Linked DNA regions of Homo sapiens: region 2 is linked to region 1. Evidence: fine-mapped QTL for protein levels in blood plasma. Region 1 holds a variant in brackets. A gene starts in the other region. All regions are shown on their reverse strands.

Region 1 (5,370 bases):
TGTTTGCAAAGCAAGAGTGCCCTTTACTCCGGGTTCCCAACAAGTTCCTTATCTCCATCTGTATTAGTCTGTTCTCATGCTGCTATAAATGACTAAGACTGGGTAATTTATAAAGGAGAGAGGTTTAATTGACTCACAGTTCCACGTGGCTGGGGAGGCCTCAGGAAACTTATAATCATGGTGGAAGGGGAAGCAAACATGTCCTTCTTTACATGATGGCAGAAAGGAGAAGTGATGAGCAAAAGGGGGAAGAGCCACTTATAAAACCATCACATCTTGTGAGAACTCACTCACTATCATGAGAACAGCAGCATGGGGGTAACTGCCCTCGTGTTTCAATTACTTCCCCCCAGGTCCCTCCCACAACATGTGGGGATTATGGGAACTACAATTCAAAATGAGATTGGGTGGGGACACAGCCAAACTGTGGCAGGCCAGGTCTCACTAATGCAGGCCTCCATAACAACTGTTTCAGTACTGACTGAGTGGTTAAGTTAAATATTAAAAGCCAGTGCCCTTATACAAAGGCTGGGATGTAACAGTAGCCCGTCAAGAGTTTTGCCTACGCCTTTCTTGGGCCTTAATGCATGACAAAATAACAGGAATTCTTAACAGGACCCATTTAGGATTAAACAAGTTTTATTGTGGGTCTGAAGAAACTCCCCAGGCCTCCACAAACAAGTTTATTGGGGGTCTGAAGGAACTCCCCAAACCTCCATGATTTAGTGGGAGACAAGATAAGGGTAATCACCCCAGCACCTTGACCCATTTAGATTAAGTAAATTTACTGAGGCTCCAGAGAAAGGTCTTCAGGACTCAGATCTTAGTTATAGATTAAAAGAAGTTAATCACTTATGTGTTTAGATAAATATACACTTACATGTAGACATACAGCTTAGAAGGCATGTAAGCTCTGGAAAACTTTGTAATTTTGAGTTGGTCTGGTGATAATTTCCAGGCCTTCTCCCAGTAGCTGGCTACAGAAATAAAAACTCTCTTGCTCCCCAGTTCCTCTGCATCTCATTATTGGGCCACGAGAAATAGCAGCTCGACCCTCAGTTTGGTCCAGGAACAAAACCATATCACCATCTGAGACCACCTCAGCCTGGACTTAATTGTTCATATCACTATCAGCATTTTGGTCAAAGCCATTCTGCAAGTCTCTAGGAAGTTCCAGACTTTCCCACATTTTCCATTTTTCTTCTGAGCCCTCCAAACTGCTCCAACCTCTGCCTGTTACCCAGTTCCAAAATTGCTTCCACATTTTTGGGTATCTTTACAGCAGTGCTCCACTCTGTGTGGTACCAATTTACTGTATTAGTCTGTTCTCACACTGCTAATAAAGACATATCCAAGACTGGGTAATTTATAAAGGAAAGAGGTTTGACTCACAGTTCGGCATGACTGGGGAGGCCTCAGGAAACTTACAATCATGGCAGAAGGGGAAACAAACACATCCTTCTTCACATGGTGGCAGGAGAGAGAATGAGAACCGAGTGAATTGGGAAGCCCCTTATAAAACCATCAGATCTTGTGAGAACTTACTATCATGAGAACAGCATGAGGGAAACCACCTCCATGATTCAATTACTTCCCATTGGGTCCCTCCCACCACACGTGGAGATTATGGGAACCACAATTCAAGATGAGATTTGGGTGGGGACACAGCCAAACCATATCACATATTAAGGACCTACAATTTTTTATTCATTGAGCCATTAGTGCTTGAGAAATACTTTCTTTTGTGTCACCTCTGTCATCCCCTGCTGCAGTAGATGTCATTTGCCCCAACTCAGATCTAAGAAAATGTTTCCTATTTCTAAAGGACAGACAATATTGAAATCTTTTGCAGCAGCTAGGGAGTGGGCTGAACCCCTCAGCTGGGTTGCGAAGTTCTCCCACAAGTCAGGCCTGTTTCTCATTCAGTGGTTTTCTTTGAAGATTAGCACTGTTTTACAAAAGGATTTTTAAAAAGTCCTCTCCCCTCTCCCCTGTCCCCTCACCCCTCTCCCTCTCTGCACGGTCTCTCTCTGATGCCGAGCCGAGGCTGGACTGTACTGCCGCCATCTCGACTCACTGCAACCTCCCTGCCTGATTCTCCTGCCTCAGCCTGCTGAGTGCCTGGGATTGCAGGCGCGCGCCGCCA[C/T]GCCTGACTGGTTTTCGTATTTTTTGGTGGAGACGGGATTTCACCGTGTTGGCCGGGCTGGTCTCCAGCTCCTGACCACGAATGATCTGCCAGCCTCGGCCTCCCGAGGAGCCGGGATTGCAGACAGAGTCTCGCTCACTCAGTGCTCAACGTTGCCCAGGCTGGAGTGCAGTGGCGTGATCTCGGCTCGCTACAACCTCCACCTCCCAGCTGCCTGCCTTGGCCTCCCAAAGTGCCGAGATTGCAGCCTCTGCCCGGCCGCCACCCCATCTAGGAAGTGAGGAGCGTCTCTGCCTGGCCGCCCATCGTCTGGGATGTGAGGAGCCCCTCTGCCGGGCCACCCAGTCTGGGAAGTGAGGAGCGCCTCTTCCCGGCCGTCATCCCGTCTAGGAAGTGAGGAGCGTCTCTGCCCGGCCGCCCATTGTCTGGGATGTGGGCAGCGCCTCTGCCCCGCCGCCCCATCTGAGATGTGAAGAGCACCTCTGCCAGGCCTCGACCCCGTCTGGGAACTGAGGAGTGTCTCTGCCCCACCGCCACCCCGTCTGGGAGGTGAGGAGCGTCTCTGACCGGCCACCCCCTCTGAGAAGTGAGGAGCCCCTCCGCCCGGCAGCCGCCCAGTCTGGGAAGTGAGGAGCGTCTCCGCCCGGCAGCCGCCCCGTCGGGGAGGTGGGGGGCAGCCCCCGCCCAGCCGCCGCCCCGTCTGGGAGGTGGGGTGTGCCTCTGCCCTGCCGCCACCCCGTCTGGGAGGTGTACCCAACAGCTCATTGAGAATGGGCCATGATGACGATGGCGGTTTTGTCGAATAGAAAAGGGGGAAATGTGGGGAAAAGAAAGAGAGATCAGATTGTTACTGTGTCTGTGTAGAAAGAAGTAGACATAGGAGACTCCATTTTGTTCTGTACTAAGAAAAATTCTTCTGCCTTGGGATGCTGTTAATCTATAACCTTACCCCCAACCCCGTGCTCTCTGAAACATGTGCTGTGTCCACTAAGGGTTAAATGGATTAAGGGCGGTGCAAGATGTGCTTTGCTAAACAGATGCTTGAAGGCAGCATGCTCCTTAAGAGTCATCACCACTCCCTAATCTCAAGTACCCAGGGATACAAGCACTGCAGAAGGCCGCAGGGCCCTCTGCCTAGGAAAACCAGAGACGTTTATTCACATGTTTATCTGCTGACCTTCCCTCCACTATTGTCCTATGACCCTGCCAAATCCCCCTCTCCGAGAAACACCCAAGAATGATCAATAAATACTAAAAAAATTAAAAAAAAAAGTGCTTTCCAGAATTAGCCAGATGTGGTTGTGTGTGCTGTAGTGTCAGCTACTTGGGAGGCTGAAGTGGGAGGATCGCTTAAGCCCAGGAGTTTCAGGTTGCAGTGAGCTGTGTTTGTGTTACTGCACTCCAACCTGGGTGTCAGAGAGTCTCATAAAAAAAATTATATATATATAAAAGAAGAAGGCAGCTAAGCTAGGGAATAATTCTACGCATGGGCCACAAAGGCAGAAGGCAGCCCTTTGGGCAATGGACTGGGCAGTTTAGCAGATAGAAATCGGCCAAGGCATTGAAACACTTGGTTTCTGAGCCCAGCTTCATTCAGGCCTTGCTGACGGACCGCAAATAAATCCCAGCCCCCTCCTCATGTAGTCTCTCCACTGTTTGGGATGGAGACTCTAGACCTAGGAGCTTAGGCACAGTGATGAGGCAGGAGAAAGTCACTTCCTTTTCCCTGGTCCCTGGGCAAAACTTTATTCCCCCTTCTTCATCTTGCCTTGCCTACTTTCCCTCCCCACTCTCTGCTCTGCGAACTAGGCTCTTGGGGAGATTGAGGTGCTGCGAGGGCTGCCCAGGAGGGGCCCCATCTGAAGGTAAAGCCCCACCAGGCCTTTATCCGTGGTCTTTGATCCTGTCTTCTCTCTCACTCTTGCTCTCACTCCCACTCACTCTGCACCTCATGGTGGATCCATTTTTCTTCTGATCTCCTGTCAGCTTTATTCTGTCTGCTCACCCACTTTTCTGCCCATATTCTCAACCACTTTCTCAAAGGCAGCTGTCCCGCTGGTCCCAGCTCTTTGCTCCTAGAGCCCAGAACTCGGGTGAGTGGAACCACCCTGGTGTCCGTTAAGTCCCCAGCCTTGAGGAAGGTCCTGCCATTTTCCCTCAACTCCCCTGGCTAATCTTCCTGTTCAGAGGAGTTTTCTGGGCGGGAAGGAGAGCTGGGCTGTTCCTGTGGCCTCTCCCACAGCTTTCCTGCTGCGGCCTTTGTCTTTGCCTGGATGCTTCCTGGGGCAGCACGAGCCCTCCTCTGGCCCCGTCCTCCAGTCTGGCCTTGGGGACATGGCGGTGGCAATGGCACAGCATGACTGAGCTTGTTTTGTTGGTGCTCTCAGGTTTTGGTTCCGTCCGGGGCCTTCTGTTTTGGGCAGTGCTCTGCAAACATCTGGTGACCCTGCTGGACAACTCCCTGATCGTCGTCCTCGCCCTGGCAGCCTCTGCCTGCGCTGGCCCACGCACTTCCTCCTGCACCACTTCTCCTTAGGGGAGGTCCCACGCCACAGCGGCGGAGTCTCGGATGCAGGCCGATTCCCTTCCCCCGCCGCACTAGCCCACCGGTAGGCGGCTTCCCGCTGCTGGGTTTCTTCGCCCTCCCTGGCATCGCCGAATGCGCTTGCGCAGGGCCATGGCCTCCGCCGCTGTGACGCCATCTGCCGGCCGCTGCATTCTACTACCTGAGGAGCCCTAGTCTTCCGAGCCCGCTTCGCCTTCACCTTGCCCTTCTGCGGCGCAGCACCACCCGCTACTTCCGGCTGGATTCTCGGCCTGTGCTGAGACCTTTAAAATAACACTGATTTTCTTAACTTTTGCAAACTATGCATCTGACAAAGGTCTAATATCCAACATATATAAAGAACTTCGGGAGGCTGAGGCAGGAGAATGGTGAGAACCCGGGAGGCGGAGCTTGCAGTGAGCCGAGATTGCACCACTGCACTCCAGCCTGGGCAACAGAGTGAGACTCCATCTCAAAAAAAAAAAGAACTTAAATTTATAAGAAAAAAAACCAAACAATCCTACTAAAAAGTGGGCAAAAGACATGAATAGACACTTTTCAAAAGAAGACATACATGCAGTCAACAAGCTTATGAAAAAAAGCTCAACATCGCTGATCATTAGGGAAACGCAAATCAAAACCATAATGAGATACCACCTCACACCAGTCAGAATGGCTA
Region 2 (5,370 bases), not on the chromosome of region 1:
AGCTACTGGGGAGGCTGAGGCAGGAGAATCACTTGAACCCAGGAGGCAGAGGTTGCAGTGAGCCAAGATTGCACCACTGCACTTCAGCCTGGGCAACAAAGCAAGACTCTACCCTGAAGAAAAAAGTATACGACAACTTGATTATATAAAAGTTTTTGGGTTTTTGGCCGGGCACGGTGGCTCACACCTGTAATCTCAGCACTTCTGGAGGCCGAGGCAGGTGGATCACGAGGTCAGGAGATCAAGACCATCCTGGCTAACATGGTGAAACCCTGTCTCTACTAAAAACACAAAAAAATTAGCCAGGCATGATGGCGGGCCCCTGTAGTCCCAGCTACTCAGAAGGCTGAGGCAGGAGAATGGCGTGAACCCGGGAGGCAAGCTTGCAGTGAGCCGAGATTGCGCCACTGCACTCCAGCCTGGGTGATAGAGCGAGACTCCGTCTCAAAAAAAAAAAAAAAGTTTTTGGGTTTTTTGTGACTTACACTGACTGTTCATGACATGGTTGGACTTTCCAATTTGTTCTGAACATCCCTCCTTTTTATTTATTTTGGGTTTTTTTTTTTTTTTTTTTTTTTTCAGATGGAGTCTTGCTCTGTCACCCAGGCTGGAGTGCAGTGGCATGATCTCCGCTCACTGCAAGCTCCGCCTCCCGGGTTCACGCCATTCTCCTGCCTCAGCCTCCCGAGTAGCTGGGACTACAGGCGCCCACCACCACGCCCAGCTTAATTTTTTGTATTTTTAGTAGAGACAGGGTATCACCATGTTAGCCAGGATGGTCTTGATCTCCTGACCTTGTGATCCGCCCGCCTCGGCCTCCCAAAGTGCTGGGATTACAAGCGTGAGCCACTGCGTCCGGCCCTATTTTGGTTTATTTTTTATTTTTTATTTTTTTCTTGAGACTGAGTCTTGCTGTCACCCAGGCTGGAGTGCAGTGGCATGATCTCAGCTCATTGCAACCTCTGCCTCCCAGGTCAAGCGATTCTCCTGCCTCAGCCTCCCAAGTAGCTGGGATTATAGGCACACACCACTAAGCCTGGCTAATTTTTGTATTTTTAGTAGAAACAGGGTTTCGCCATGTTGGCCAGGTTGGTTTCAAACTCCTGACCTCAAATGATCCTCCTGCCTCAGTCTCCCAAAGTGCTAGGATTATGTGTGAGCCACTGCACCCGGCTTATTTTTTTTTTTTTTTAGCAGAGTCTTGCTCTGTCACCCAGGCTAGAGGGCAGTGGCGCAATCTCAGCTCACTGCAACCTCCGCCTTCCAAGTTTAAGTGATTCTCCTGCCTCAGCCTCCTGAATAGCTGGGATTATAGGTGTGGGCCACCATGCCTGGATAATTTTTGTGTTTTTGTTGTTGTTGTTGTTGTTGTTGAGATGGAGTCTTGCTCTGTCACTGAGGCTGGAGTAACAGTAGCATGATCTCGGCTCACTGCAACCCCCACCTCCCAGGTTGAAGCAATTCTCCTGCCTCAGCCTCCTGAGTAGCTGGGATTACAGGCACCCACCACCATGCCGGGCTAATTTTTGTATTTTTAGTAGAGATAGGTTTCACCATGTTGGCCAAGCTGGTCTCAAACTCCCGACCTCAGGTGACCCGCCCACCTCGGCCTCCCAAAGTGTTGGGATTACGGGTGTGAGCCACCACTCCCAGCCAAAAAAAATTTTTTTAATCTTATTACCATATTTCAGCTAGAACAAAATGCTGCTAAAGTAACAATGATCACACAAAGTATATGATTTCTGAGTGCTGTAAGTGTAAGCAGAAGTTAACACCAGCTGGTTGTTAAATGCTAACTTTAGTCATTTAAAGGAAATTGCAAGGCAGAATCCCAAGCCAGTTTCTTACCTAGTGATGGGTCTCAGGCTGTAGACTGCTCTCTACCATCCCAGAAGCAGGAAAAAAAAACTAATTTTCCCTGTTGGAAGCGAGCTCAAACTCCATAAAGGAGTTACCTGCCTTCCATCGTCATGGAAGCAGAAAAACTTGCTTTCCTTTTGGGAGCAAGTAAAACTCCAAAAAAAAAAAAAAAAAAAAAAAGAGTTGTACAGCAAAATAAACTTTAGATCTCAACCAATTGAGAAATCAAGGATTCTCTGGAGGGGGTGCTCCCAGACCTCAGCAAATTGTCCTATTGGTTTGAGCCATAAAGTTAGCTCCTGCTGGTACCAAGCACAGATAGGCAATTAGTCAAAAGTCAAGGACATCTCCACACAGAATCCATCCATAGTTACCAAATGTGAACCCAGAAAATCTGAGACAGCTCTCAGTTAATTTAAAAAGTTTATTTTGCTGAGGTTGAAGATGCATCCAAGACACAGCCTCAGGAAGTCCTGATGACATGTGCCCAAGGTGTTCCGGGCACAGCTTGGTTTTATACATTTTAGGGAGATATGAGACATCTATCAATACGTAAGAAGTACCTTAGCCAAGCGTGGTGGCTCAAGCCTGTAATCCCAGCACTTTGGGAGGCCAAGGTGGGCAGATCACAAGGTCAGGAGTTCAAGACCAGCCTGGCCAATATGGTGAAACCCTGTCTCTACTAAACATATAAAAATTAGCTGGGTGTGGTGGCACGCGCCTGTAGTCCCAGCTACTCTGGAGGCTGAGGCAGGAGAATCGCTTGAACCCGGGAGCCAGAGGTTGCAGTGAGCCGAGATCATGCCATTGCACTCCAGCCTGGGCGACAGAGTGAGACTTCATCTAAAAAAAAATTAGGCCAGGCGCGGTGGCTCACACCTGTAATCCCAGCACTTTGGGAAGCTGAGGCAGGCAGATCACAAGGTCAGGAGATCGAGACCATCCTGGCTAACACGGTGAAACCTCGTCTCTACTAAAAATACAAAAAATTAGCCAGGCGTGGTGGCGGGCGCCTGTAGTCCCAGCTACTCGGGAGGCTGAGGCAGGAGAATGGCATGAACCCGGGGGGCAGAGCTTGCAGTGAGCTGAGATCGCACCACTGCACTCCAGCCTGGGCGACAGAGCGAGACTCCGTCTCAAAAAATAAAAATAAAAAAAAAACAGAAGTACATAAGCTCTGTCCAGAGAGGTGGAGACAGCTCAAAGCACGGCCCCCCACTGGGGGCTTCCAGGTCACAGGCAGGTGACAGACAGATGGTTGCATTCTTTTGAGTTTCTGGTAGTCTTTCCAAAAGAGGCAATGGAGGCAATCATAATATGCATCTATGTCTGTAAGCAAAAGGATGACTTGAATAGAATGGGAGGCAGATTTGTCCTGAGCGGTTCCCAGCTTGAAGGGGCCCAAGATATTTTCCTTTCACATATTGAACAAGTGAAACCACAAATGAATGAACAAGCATGTGCTCACTGACAGCTCATATGCATGGTCACACAAACACAGGATCTCATGCTCACAAGACAGCAGGGCTCACACACACCCAGTCCCAGGCACTGGGTTCCACACTCACACCTACTTGCCACTGGAATTTGTGCAGAGGCTCAGATGGTCACTAAATGGGGCTTCACAAAGACACAGTCACTAACCCAGCACATATACAAAGGGTGATGACACAGCCCTGACTTCATGAACACAGTGCCTTTCAGAAACAGGTCCCTACAACAGGGATGACTTATCCACTAAGCACAATAGACCCAAGGCCTAGGGCCACAGTACTTTCAGGGGCCCACAAAATGTTTTTTTAATCAGAAGAAGAATATAAATGTAAATATATTAATAATTAATATATAATAGTGTAACCCAGACATGACCTCCTGGGCTCAAGCACTCCTCCTGCCTCAGTGTCCCAAGTAGCTGGGACTACAGGTACATACCACCATGCCCAGCTAATTTTTAATTTTTTTGTAGAGATGGGGTCTTGCTACATTGCCTAGGCTGGTCTCGAACTCCTGGGCTCAAGCAATTCTCCCACCTCAGCCTCCCAAAGTGCTAAGACTATAGCCATATATATATATATATATATATATATATATATATATATATATTTTTTTTTTTTTTTTTTTTTTTGAGATGGAGTCGCTCTCTGTCACCCAGGCTGGAGTATAGTAGCACAGTGGAGCAGTCTTGGCTCACTGCAACCTCTGCCTCCCGGGTTCAAGGGATTGTCCTGCCTCAGCCTCCCGAGTAGCTGGGATTACAGGCGCCTGCCACCACGCCCGGCTAATTTTTTGTATTTTTAGTAGAGAAGGGGTTTCACCATGTTAGCCGGGATGGTCTCGATCTCCTGACCTCGTGATCTGCCACCTCGGCTTCCCAAAGTGCTAGGATTATAGGCGTGAGCCTCCGCACCTGGCATGCCTGGCCATATTTTAAAATATTTTTTTTAAGGAGGAAAAGATCCACGAAAGTAAAGTGCCTAGGGCCCATCAATGTCAGATGCAGCCACGTGGACAAAGAACACTCCCTGAGCACAAGACACGAAAGAACCCGGTCTCCAGTGTCACAAACAGGCCTGCCCAGCAGGGTCTGCCCCTGCCCACCTCCTCCAGCCTAGGTAAGGCCACAAAGCCCTGCCCTAGTGCTGACAGCGTGGGAGGGGCCACTGTTGGCCCAGCCCCACCCCCAACCAAGATCCCTTTGCCAGGGATTCAGAGGTAGCCCTGATGCCTGGCTGGCCTGGCCTCCTAATCCAAGGCCCGCCCCTTGGCCCGCCCCTGGCCTGGGTGGGGTGACCCCCTACAAAAGCTCAGAATTTCCAGCAGCGGCTCCTTCCTCCAGGAGTCTCTGGTGCAGCTGGGGTGGAATCTGGCCAGGCCCTGCTTAGGCCCCCATCCTGGGGTCAGGAAATTTGGAGGATAAGGCCCTTCAGCCCCAAGGTCAGCAGGGACGAGCGGGCAGACTGGCGGGTGTACAGGAGGGCTGGGTTGACCTGTCCTTGGTCACTGAGGCCATTGGATCTTCCTCCAGTGGCTGCCAGGATTTCTGGTGGAAGAGACAGGAAGGCCTCCCCCCCTTGGTCGGGTCAGCCTGGGGGCTGAGGGCCTGGCTGTCAGCCACTCTTCCCAGAACATATGTCATGGCCTCAGTGGCTCATGGGGAAGCAGGGGTGGGCGAGCTTAGGCTAGAGCAAGTCCTGTGGGAGATGGCAGAGGCCTGGTCTGAGAGGCAACTCGGATGTGCCCTCCAGTGGCCATGCTCCCCTCCATGCGTCTCCCCTGCCCTCCTGGAGCCCTGCAGGTCAATGTTTAACAGAAACCAGAGCAGCGGTGGATTAATGCGCAAGGGCTCAGCCCCCCAGCCCTGAGCAGTGGGGGAATCGGAGACTTTGCAACCTGTTCTCAGCTCTGCCTCCCCTGGCCAGGTTGTCCTCGACCAGTCCCGTGCCATGGCAGCCCACCTGCTTCCCATCTGCGCCCTCTTCCTGACCTTACTCGATATGGCCCAAGGCTTTA

Alleles and levels. Alleles are on the strand shown, and positions count from the first base shown. The strength of an association depends on the size of the effect and on how common the allele is.
In carriers of allele C in region 1, the plasma level of the protein whose gene starts at base 4,686 in region 2 tends to be higher than with T alone (weak association).

Evidence for each region. PIP is the posterior inclusion probability: the model's chance that the variant is causal. Protein levels are from antibody-based Olink assays in UK Biobank. Linkage for the fine-mapping came from a reference panel and not from the study's own genotypes, which makes the PIPs less certain.
Region 2: it holds the start of HYAL1, and the variant in region 1 is fine-mapped to the plasma level of the HYAL1 protein (UK Biobank, PIP above 0.99).

Annotation. Positions count from the first base shown.
Region 1 is chr12:55,645,796-55,651,165 of GRCh38, reverse strand. It overlaps the pseudogene OR10AE3P. Among named protein-coding and RNA genes, the nearest start is that of OR10P1, 12 kb to the right of the region's middle. RefSeq lists an enhancer at 4,530-4,989. The variant C/T (reference allele first, on the strand shown) is at 2,147.
Region 2 is chr3:50,302,890-50,308,259 of GRCh38, reverse strand. It overlaps HYAL1 (hyaluronidase 1), which reads left to right and starts at 4,686. Exons shown (of 4, transcript NM_033159.4): 1 at 4,686-4,794; 2 at 5,280-5,370. The coding sequence starts at 5,304. RefSeq lists enhancers at 4,281-4,450, 4,268-5,202.